3 linked regions of the Homo sapiens genome follow. The protein of the gene in region 2 purifies or fractionates together with the protein of the main gene of each other region. This does not show direct contact. Each region holds a gene or a part of one and is shown on either strand. Other genes may lie near its edges.

Evidence for each region.
Region 1: the proteins of DKK2 (region 2) and ARID4A purify together in Homo sapiens (affinity purification with mass spectrometry; one large-scale study listed by BioGRID and IntAct). This does not show direct contact.
Region 3: the proteins of DKK2 (region 2) and PKLR purify together in Homo sapiens (affinity purification with mass spectrometry; one large-scale study listed by BioGRID and IntAct). This does not show direct contact.

The regions. Positions count from the first base shown.
Region 1 is NC_000014.9:58,357,449-58,361,098, forward strand, and holds part of ARID4A (AT-rich interactive domain-containing protein 4A), read left to right. Parts: intron 1-1,683; coding exon 1,684-1,768; intron 1,769-3,452; coding exon 3,453-3,594; coding exon of another isoform or gene 3,595-3,650.
Region 2 is NC_000004.12:107,034,189-107,037,938, reverse strand, and holds the start of DKK2 (dickkopf-related protein 2 precursor), read left to right. Parts: upstream 1-1,625; 5' UTR 1,626-2,347; coding exon 2,348-2,569; intron 2,570-3,750. UniProt on the Homo sapiens protein: Antagonizes canonical Wnt signaling by inhibiting LRP5/6 interaction with Wnt and by forming a ternary complex with the transmembrane protein KREMEN that promotes internalization of LRP5/6.
Region 3 is NC_000001.11:155,291,289-155,294,938, reverse strand, and holds part of PKLR (pyruvate kinase PKLR), read left to right. Parts: intron 1-186; coding exon 187-457; intron 458-553; coding exon 554-704; coding exon of another isoform or gene 705-724; intron 725-1,348; coding exon 1,349-1,501; intron 1,502-1,595; coding exon 1,596-1,762; intron 1,763-3,001; coding exon 3,002-3,183; intron 3,184-3,650. UniProt on the Homo sapiens protein: Pyruvate kinase that catalyzes the conversion of phosphoenolpyruvate to pyruvate with the synthesis of ATP, and which plays a key role in glycolysis.

The sequences.
Region 1 (3,650 bases), on a different chromosome or scaffold from region 2:
TATGGTTTCCAGATACATGAGTTTCTATTAATACGCTACAGTCTAAAACAAGTTTGTCCAACCTGTGGCCCACAAGCCATATGCAGCCCAGCATGGCCTGGAATGTGGCCCAACACAAATTCATAAACTTTCTTAAAACATGAGTTTTTTTTATTTTTTTGCATGGTTTTTTTTTTTTTTTTTAGCTCATCAGCTATCGTTAGTGTTATTTTATGTGTGGCCCAAGACAATTCTTCTTCCATTGTGGCCCAGAGAAGCCAAAAGATTGGACATTCCTGGTCTAAAGCAAGGACTGCCTGTTGTTTCTTTACTTAACTGTACATTTTTTAGATTTTGACTTAATTCTGTAAATACTTGTATATTTAGATAATGTAAAAACTGTTATTTAGTTCTAGAAACCTTAATTTCTTATTTGCCCCTGATTAGTCACTTGGACTATAGACAATCAAAAGTGATAGTAATCATTTGAGAAGGCCAGGTGCAATGGCTCATGCCTGTAATCCTAGCACTTTGGGAGGCTGAGGTGGGCAGATCACTTGAGCTCCGGAATTCAAGACCAGCCTGGGCAACATGGCAAAACCCGTCTCTATAAAAAATACAAAAATTAGCTTGGTGCAATGGTGTACATCCGTGGTCTCAGCTACTCAGGAGGCTGAGGTGGGAGGATCATCTGAGCCCAGGAGATCATGCCTCTGCACTCCATCCTGGGCAACAGAGTGAGACCCTCTCTAAAAAAATTGCCGGGTCCAGTGGCTCACCCCTATAATCCCAGCACTTTGGGAGACTGAGGTGAGCAGGTCACCTGAGGTCAGGAGTTCGAGACCAGCATGGCCAACATGGCGAAACCCCGTCTCTACGAAAAATAAAAAATTAGCGGGGTGTGGTGGCAGGCACCTGTAATCCCAGATATTGGGAGGCTGAGGCATGAGAATCACTTGAACCCAGGAGGCAGAGGTTCCATTGAGCCGAGATGGCACCACTGCATGTCAGCCTGGGTGACAACATTGAAACTAGCCCCCCAAAAATAAAAATAAAATTTAAAATAAATTTTAAAATAAATTTTTAAGTAAATGTTTAGGGGAAATGAGTTTTCAACTTAAGCTAAACAGAATAAACTTAGATAAAGTAGGTGAAATACAGATATCTCTAAAAAATTTCAGAATCCTAAAGGCAATGTAGTTCAGAAGATTTTATTGGAAATACTAGAGAGAGTGTTGAGGAGGAAAAGGAAGTTGAAATGGACTTGATAAAATAACTTGATAAAATAACCTGAAACTGATCACCTTGCAAATTTGAATTTATCTGACTTAGCTTTCTATTATTCATTCAATAGCACGAATTCTATTGCAGATCTGATTATAAGCTCAGGTCTGTAAAAGCTGTGGAAAACAAAACAGTTCAGATTGTCTTGAATCTAGAGTTTGCTTTCCAAGACTCTCCCTCTAAACCTGTTAACTCTTAAGAAATCCTCTTGCCTTTCCCTAGTGAGTATACAAAATACCTACTACAGTTACTGGCACATGTTACCAGCAAACCAGCCCCTGTGCCCTTCATATTCTTGCCAACACTAAGAACAAACTATTTAATCTGTCTCACTGTTGTTTTCGTTTGGTGAATACATTTCAAAAAGGTTATAATGTATAAAGTTTGTACAAACTCTTTTTTTTTTTTTTTTTTTTTAAGGTATGATGAGTGGGTGAAGGCTGACAGGATAATCTGGCCTTTGGACAAAGGTGGACCAAAGAAAAAACAGAAGAAAAAAGCTAAAGTATGTTTGTAGATTTATGTCCTTTATAATATGTATAGGAATTATCCAAATTGTATTGTGTGTTTTTTAAGACTTTAAGAACAGTTTTAGGTTTATACCAAGATTGAGAGCAAGGTATATAGACCTCCCATATACTCTCTGCCCCATGCATGCATAGCCTTCCCAGATTGTCAACATCCCCCACCAGAGTGGGATGTTTGTTACAACTGATGTGCCTACATTGACACATTATTGTCACTCAGAGTCCATCGTTTACATTAGGGTTCACTGTTGGTGTTGTATATTCTGTAGGTTTTGACAAATATATAATGACATGGATCCATCACTATAGTATCATACAGAGTAGCTTTACTGCCCTAAAAATCCTTTATGTTCTGCTTATTCTTACCCCCACCCCAGCCCCTGACAACTACAGACTTTTTCTCTCTCCATAGTTTTTGCCTTTTTGAGAATATCATATAATTGGAATCATACACCATATAGCCTTTTTAGATTGGCTTCTTTTGCTTAGTAATATGCATATACGATATTGTGTTTGTTTAATAAATCTTATTGTAATAATCATCTTGGCCGGGCATGGTGGCTCATGCCTGTAATGCCAGCACTTTGGGAGGCTGAGGCGGGCGGATCACGAGGTCAGGAGATCAAGACCATCCTGGCTAACACGGTGAAACCCCATCTCTACTAAATATAGAAAAAATTAGCCGGTCGTGGTGGCCGGCGCCTGTAGTCCCAGCTACTCGGGAGGCTGAGGCAGGAGAATGGCGTGAACCCAGGAGGCGGAGCTTGCAGTGAGCCAAGATCGCGCCACTGCGCTCCAGCCTGGGCGACAGAGCAAGACTCCGTCTCAAAAAAAAAAAAAAAAATCTTGATTCTTGACAGATAATTGTGATTTTCTCTTTATAACCCAGGAGCTTAAAACTAACACATTACCACATTGTTTCAGCAAAGGTGAAAACCAGCAACCCCTAGGGCATGACTTTCAAACTCAAATTCCTGTAGAGGCTTTATAGGAGAAGGATAAAGTAGGACGAACCGTGACAAACGAGAGGTCACATTCCTCATTTAGACGGAATGGAACTAACCACTCTGCTGTGGGAATGCAGACCCAGGGTTGCCAGATTTTAGGATTTTTCAAGACCACTATCTTTCTTAAAATGTGAAATTTGACTTTTAAATGCTAGAAGCCAATACTAAAATTTTAAAACACATATATACTGGCCAATTGTACCCTCACCCACATCCTCAGTTGTCAAGCTTTGCTGTAGAGATTTGCCCATTGTTTTGTCTACTGGATGATAGATATCTTTCCTTTCTGCAGGGGATAGTAGGGAACAGCGGGGAGTGCGGAATAGTTGTATAGTCTTCTAAAGCTCTAACTGACCATCACAATATAATTGCAGTATTACAAATTGTACAATATTGTATTTACATAAATACAAAATATGTTAGAAATTCAGCAGTGGAGGATTATATACCAATTTCCGTGACACTAATGTTAATAAGTTCTGATAACCTCTCAGACCAGCCAGAAAACTCTTCTTGATTCTTCTGTAAGCACAGACTAGGAAGTGACATATAAAATATCAAACCTTTTTTGAGATGTAGTTTTCTTTGGATAAGTAGAATGTTCATTTTTCGTAAAGCATTGGCCCTTCTCATACATTTTGTTGTTGTTGCCCAGAATAAAGAAGATAGTGAAAAGGACGAAAAGAGAGATGAGGAGAGGCAGAAGTCAAAACGGGGACGACCTCCTTTAAAATCAACCCTCTCATCAAACATGCCGTATGGCTTATCTAAGACAGCAAACAGTGAAGGAAAATCAGGTACCAGAAGTGCTCGCAGCAATATACCAGACAGCTCACCTCTGTCAAATGGAATG
Region 2 (3,750 bases):
AAAAGTGGAAAAAAAACCCCACACACTAAAATGTGAAAAATCTCTACCTTAAAGAAAGGAAATTCAAAAGATAAGAACACATGCCAGAGGGTGCATATTTTAATCCCCGTTTCCTTGTGTATTAAAAAAAAAATCTGAAAATGAAGAATTTCAGGGCAGACAGACTCATAGGTCAGGACTGAGAAATTTGCAAAACTGGAGCTGTCTGGGAGAAAATAGCTCTAAATCCACACTTTAGAACTCTGCGTTGTTTTGGGGGAAAATAAGAGTCACCAACGTTCTCACTTAGCGACAAGTTTAATTCGTACTCATGGACATGCGCCAGGATCAGGTGTGAAAGCTGTGAAATCTAGGTCCAAAAATTCTGAAGAGGATGCTGCTTGTATCCTCCCCTGGCGGCTAGCTGCCTTCTAACTTCAAGTTGTGGCTCAATGCTTGGATTTCTCTGCTCCTGGACATTAGTGTCTGCGAAGCAGAAATGCAATAACTTTCGAACAATCCCTTGCTTTGCTTGGAAAGTCTCGCACTTGGCCACCAGACATCACCGAACTCAGCGCTTGTCTCCTGCAGCAATTCCGTGGCTCGCTGAACGGCTGCCACTGGCGCCCCCAAGCGCCAGCGCGTCCCAGTCGTTCCCGGAGCAGCCTTCGACCTTCGGCCGAAGGGAATTGGACCTGGAGAGACCCGGGGGCTGACAGGAATGGCTTCTCTTGTAATTCACTGGGGCTAGAAGGCAGGAAGCCAAGGAAGACAGGATCTCAAAGGCTCCCTGCCCCCGTTCATTCCTATCTGGGATTTCCTATTCGCAAAAAGAGCAGTTGCCTGGCATGGTAAAGATGCTCATTCGAGCTGTGAGGTCCAAACCCTTGGAGCGTACCCAGAGCATCCCCTTCTTCCCAGTCCCTCAGAGACATAGACATATTCTACGAGTGCGGCGGGGCCCGGGGTTCCGAAGGAGGAGACTAAAAAGACCCAAATCGAACAGGCTCATCTTTTCCCCTCTTTGGTCTGCCCCTTTCCTTCCAGACCCTCTATCCGGATCATTGGCCACCCCCTGGCGCACCTATGTGGCTCCAGCTTCACACACTCCCTGGGAGGCACAGTCTAAAACCAAACGTGAGCTCACAAAGAACACAATACTAATGAGCAGATGCGCAGATGCTCACTTCTCTAAAGCTTCCATAGGGCTTTTCCAGCTCTCCTCGCGGAGTCAGGGGCTGAAGATGGGTGGGAAGATCTAAGAAAGGGTGGCAGCGATCAAGTGGTGTCAGCTTGCCCCACTCCGTTTCCACCTTTGGTCTCTGCCAGTTTCCAAAGACCCCTCCAACCGCTGGAGTTGTTGTCAGGAATTAGGAGCCCCTATGTTCCATTCACCTCATGGAAAAGCTAGATCCCCCTTTTCCAGTAGTTGTGGGTGGAGACAGAGCGGGAGGATGAGGAGGAGGAAAAGCTGGAGTGAAAGCCGCAGAAGCAGAAGCAGCACGCAGAGAGGAGGGGGGCGGAAGCGGTGGGGAGTGAGAGAAAAATTTTCACTCTTTGTCACTCTTGAATTGGGGGCGGAGGTAAAAAAAAAAAAAAAGTCCTCACTGTGGGAAGCTATAAAAAGCAAAGAGGACTGGGGAGAGAGCAGAGAGAGAGAAAGCGGGAGCCCGCGGCGAGCGTAGCGCAAGTCCGCTCCCTAGGCATCGCTGCGCTGGCAGCGATTCGCTGTCTCTTGTGAGTCAGGGGACAACGCTTCGGGGCAACTGTGAGTGCGCGTGTGGGGGACCTCGATTCTCTTCAGATCTCGAGGATTCGGTCCGGGGACGTCTCCTGATCCCCTACTAAAGCGCCTGCTAACTTTGAAAAGGAGCACTGTGTCCTGCAAAGTTTGACACATAAAGGATAGGAAAAGAGAGGAGAGAAAAGCAACTGAGTTGAAGGAGAAGGAGCTGATGCGGGCCTCCTGATCAATTAAGAGGAGAGTTAAACCGCCGAGATCCCGGCGGGACCAAGGAGGTGCGGGGCAAGAAGGAACGGAAGCGGTGCGATCCACAGGGCTGGGTTTTCTTGCACCTTGGGTCACGCCTCCTTGGCGAGAAAGCGCCTCGCATTTGATTGCTTCCAGTTATTGCAGAACTTCCTGTCCTGGTGGAGAAGCGGGTCTCGCTTGGGTTCCGCTAATTTCTGTCCTGAGGCGTGAGACTGAGTTCATAGGGTCCTGGGTCCCCGAACCAGGAAGGGTTGAGGGAACACAATCTGCAAGCCCCCGCGACCCAAGTGAGGGGCCCCGTGTTGGGGTCCTCCCTCCCTTTGCATTCCCACCCCTCCGGGCTTTGCGTCTTCCTGGGGACCCCCTCGCCGGGAGATGGCCGCGTTGATGCGGAGCAAGGATTCGTCCTGCTGCCTGCTCCTACTGGCCGCGGTGCTGATGGTGGAGAGCTCACAGATCGGCAGTTCGCGGGCCAAACTCAACTCCATCAAGTCCTCTCTGGGCGGGGAGACGCCTGGTCAGGCCGCCAATCGATCTGCGGGCATGTACCAAGGACTGGCATTCGGCGGCAGTAAGAAGGGCAAAAACCTGGGGCAGGTAGGAAAACCCCCAAACACATTCTTCAGACAGAAGAGGCAGGGGCCAGCTCTCTTGGGCTAGCGGTTTGCCATTGCATCTTGCAACATTCGGAGCGTGGCCCCAGATACAGAGAACAGGCGGCTGGGGAGGGATTCACCGAACAGGGTCTGCGTGGGCGGGGGGTGTCTGGGTGGCTGCTGGTCCTGCACTGCACGGAGTCAAAGGGTTAGGATTCTGTCTCGCCTTTGCTCTGGGGCGTGGGCACATATCAAGATCTAGTGCTTTCCTGTGGAGAAAGTGGTCAGGATGGTCCTTCCATTTAACACTGTGATGCAACTGATGAAGATGTTAATAGCATTTAACCTATAGCACCTAATAACGTGCCAGGCACAGTTCTAAGCGTTTTACATATTCACTCATTTAATCTTCACAACTCTGTGAGCTAGATGCTGTTGCTTTCCCATTCTGCTAATGAAGTAATTGAGGCACGGATTGATTAACGATTTGCCCAAGGCACACAGCTAGTATAAGTGGCAGAGAGGGATTTCAGTCTAGACATTGAGATACTGGGCGTTTAACCATTATATTTTACAATCTGGAGGGGACATTACTCCTTTTCAGGGTCTCCTTCCCTTCCAACCACTTACTCTCTTCAAAGAAGTAAGGTCACAGACAAAACAACTCCAGTAGACGCGCATTTCTCACTCACGCAGAATTGTACATAAATCACCCGGAAGGAAGCAAAATGATGAGATGACAATGACAGCGTCGTAGGCGCCAGCGATACAGCAGGACACTGAAGGCGTTTTTGAGAGAGGGAACTTTCCGCAGGCGCCTCTGTCTCTGTCATACAGACAGATAGATTGAAAGCCACTTGCAAACTGTTATACAAATAGACACGCACAGAGACGAGCGCGCACACTCGGTACCAGTTGTGGCTGGCGCGCTGTGGCCAGGAGAGGGGGCTCTGTGGGCACTGGGAATCATGACAGCTCCCCCTTCCGCTCCTTTTGTGGGAAGCCAAAACTGAGAAAGCCATTTTACCAATGGCACACGCACCTCGCACAACACAAGTGTCAACCCCTGGCAGCGGCCCACGCCCCAGAGATCCGAGTTTCCTTGGAACCGACTGATGCTGCTGTTTTGCGCGCTCTCGGTGTCCTCCGCCGCCCCTGTCCACAGCGCAGCCAGCCGGCTGA
Region 3 (3,650 bases), on a different chromosome or scaffold from region 2:
ATGGGTGGGTCGTTTCTTCCACGGACGTCCATCTGTGCCTCTTCCGGGCGAAGCCCAGAACAAGGGCGGAGAGATGAGGAGGACATGGTTCCTGACCTCTTGCGGGTCCAAGCCCCAGTGTCCTCTCTGCTGCAACTGTGCCCCGTCCTCACCCCTGACCGCAGCTGGCTCTTTCCATGTCCGCAGGCCCAGAGGGACTGGTGACCCAAGTGGAGAACGGCGGCGTCCTGGGCAGCCGGAAGGGCGTGAACTTGCCAGGGGCCCAGGTGGACTTGCCCGGGCTGTCCGAGCAGGACGTCCGAGACCTGCGCTTCGGGGTGGAGCATGGGGTGGACATCGTCTTTGCCTCCTTTGTGCGGAAAGCCAGCGACGTGGCTGCCGTCAGGGCTGCTCTGGGTCCGGAAGGACACGGCATCAAGATCATCAGCAAAATTGAGAACCACGAAGGCGTGAAGAGGTGAGGCTTGGGCTCTGTTCCCCTTCGGCCCTGTCGCTATTCCCCATCACCTTTCTTCTCCTGCCTGCCTCTGCCTTGATTCTCCCAACCTCTCAGGTTTGATGAAATCCTGGAGGTGAGCGACGGCATCATGGTGGCACGGGGGGACCTAGGCATCGAGATCCCAGCAGAGAAGGTTTTCCTGGCTCAGAAGATGATGATTGGGCGCTGCAACTTGGCGGGCAAGCCTGTTGTCTGTGCCACACAGGTCTGGAGTGAGGCCTTGAGGTTCGGCACTCTGTGGGTTTTAGGGACACCTGTGGGTGAATACCCACACTGTAGGGGTTTATTTTGTTTTGTTTTGTTTTTTGAGACGGAGTCTCACTCTGTCATCCAGGCTGGAGTGCAGTGGCGCAATCTCCGCTCACTGCAACCTCCGCCTCTTGGGTTCAAACAATTCTCCTGCCTCAGCCTCCCAAGTAGTGGGGATTACAGGTGACCGCCGCCATGCCAGGCTACTTTTTGTATTTTCAGTAGAGACGGGGTTTCACCATGTTGGCCAGACTGGTCTCGAACTCCTGACCTCAGGTGATCTACTCGCCTCGGCCTCCCAAAGTGCTGGGATTACAGGTGTGAGCCACTGCACCCAGCCCACACTGTAGGTTTATAGCACATTTGGATGAAAAGTGTTTGATCCTCAAACGACAAAGTTAAATATACTTTGACCCCTATTTTCAGGGGTTGTGACCAAACGACAAAGTTAAATATACTTTGACTCCTATTTTCAGGGGTTGTGACTGTGACCCTGGATTTTGGGACACTCTGAGAGTGTGGGTGTCAGAGAAGTAGCTTGGGCAGGGTCCCCAGTCACAGTGTGAGTCCTACAACTTTGACATCCACGCTGTCCCCCAGATGCTGGAGAGCATGATTACCAAGCCCCGGCCAACGAGGGCAGAGACAAGCGATGTCGCCAATGCTGTGCTGGATGGGGCTGACTGCATCATGCTGTCAGGGGAGACTGCCAAGGGCAACTTCCCTGTGGAAGCGGTGAAGATGCAGCATGCGGTAGGAGCTCAGAATGAAAAGCAAATGGGCCAGGGAACCAAATCCCTTCCATACCCCAGTGCCCCTTCCCAGACTAACATTCTGGCACCTGCAGATTGCCCGGGAGGCAGAGGCCGCAGTGTACCACCGGCAGCTGTTTGAGGAGCTACGTCGGGCAGCGCCACTAAGCCGTGATCCCACTGAGGTCACCGCCATTGGTGCTGTGGAGGCTGCCTTCAAGTGCTGTGCTGCTGCCATCATTGTGCTGACCACAACTGGCCGGTGAGGGGGATATTGGGAATGTCCAGATGGAGCTTTGGGTCAGGGGTGGGCTGGGACGGGCCCCAGGCTTGGGTTTAGTCTGGTCACCAGGGGTGAAGAGTGTCCACCTGAGACAAGAGGAGAGGCAGCAATGACAGCTGGAGGCCAGGAGAGACAGAATGCCAGTGAGCTTCTGGGGGCTGGAAGGGGACAGCGGCATCACTGGGCACATTGGCTTCAAGGCCATTTGGGCTTCTGGGGCTCAGAGGCAAGTCCATTCGGCCCACAGAGCCTACCAATACTGAGGTATTACAGAAGGGTCCAGTAGGTCTGAGTTTAAGTCTTTACTCAGAAATGTAGCTCTATTAGCCTGCTGTCTTTCCTCATGAACAGGACAAGGTAATGATTTGTTCTTCATGGGGTTGGCAGGATTAACAGGAGATATTAAGTACTAGATAGTACTTAATATCTATATAGTAAATTAAGCACATAATGGACTTTCTCAAAAGGGTTTTATACTCTTGGGTTTTTGTTTGTTTGTTTTGTTTTGTTTTTCTTTTGAGAACGGCAGCTCGCTCTGTTGCTCAGGCTGGAGTAAAATGGTGCAATCTCAGCTCACCACAACCTTCACCTCCCAAGTTCAAGTGATTCTCCTGCCTCAGCCTTCCGAGTAGCTGGGATTACAGGCGCATGCCACAACGCCCTGCATATTTTTTGTATTTTTAGTAGAGACAGGGTTTCATCATGTTAGCCAGGCTGGTCTCAAACTCCTGACCTCAGGTGATCCACCCTCCTTGGCCTCCCAAAGTGCTGGGATTATAGGCATGAGCCACTGTGCCTGGCCAGCTTTTATATTTCTTAAAGAGATTTCTCCTTATTATCTCATTTGATATATCTGTATTATCTCATATCTTTCTTGTGTGGTAGGGAGGGCAGGCATTCTTTCTTTTTTTTTTCTTAATGCAGAGATGGGGTCTCACTATGTTGCCTAGGCTGGTCTCCAGCTCCTGGGCTCAAACAATTCTCCCATCTCGGCCTCCCAAAGTGCTGGGATTACAGGCATGAGCCACCGCTCCCGGCCTGGGAGGCAGGCATTCTTACACTCATTTTACAGGTGAGAACACCAAGGCCCAGAGAAGTATGATGACTTACCCAGGGTCACACAGCTTGTTAGTGACACCTGGAACTGGAACAAAGATTCTCCTTTCCTCGTTCACCACTTTCTTGCTGTTCTGGGCTGACCTTCTCTGCCTCCTCCAGCTCAGCCCAGCTTCTGTCTCGGTACCGACCTCGGGCAGCAGTCATTGCTGTCACCCGCTCTGCCCAGGCTGCCCGCCAGGTCCACTTATGCCGAGGAGTCTTCCCCTTGCTTTACCGTGAACCTCCAGAAGCCATCTGGGCAGATGATGTAGATCGCCGGGTGCAATTTGGCATTGAAAGTGGTGAGCTACCTAGACCTTCCCTGCCACTCCTACCATTTGTATCAGGAGCCCCCCAACCCAGCTTCCCATACCCACTCAAAGGGCCTTGCCTCTCTCCTGTGGTCCCAGGTTTTCCCTGTGAGAGTCACTAAGACTGAGATATCAGTCTGGCATATCACAAATACCTCTTCCATCAGCATAGCCACACAGGCAGACGGCCGTGCTACTTAGCAACACACTCTGCCCTAGCCCACAGATACTCCTGCACCTTTTTTTTTTTTTGAGAGAGAGTCTTGCTCTGTCGCCAGGCTGGAGTGCAGGGGTACGATCTCGGCTCACTGCAATCTCTGCCTCCTGGGTTCAAGTGATTCTCCCACCTCAGCCTCCTGAGTAGCTGGGACTACAGGCATGCGCCACCACGCCTGGATAATTTTTGTATTTTTAGTAGAGACAGGGTTTCACCATGTTGGCCAGGATGGTCTCAATGT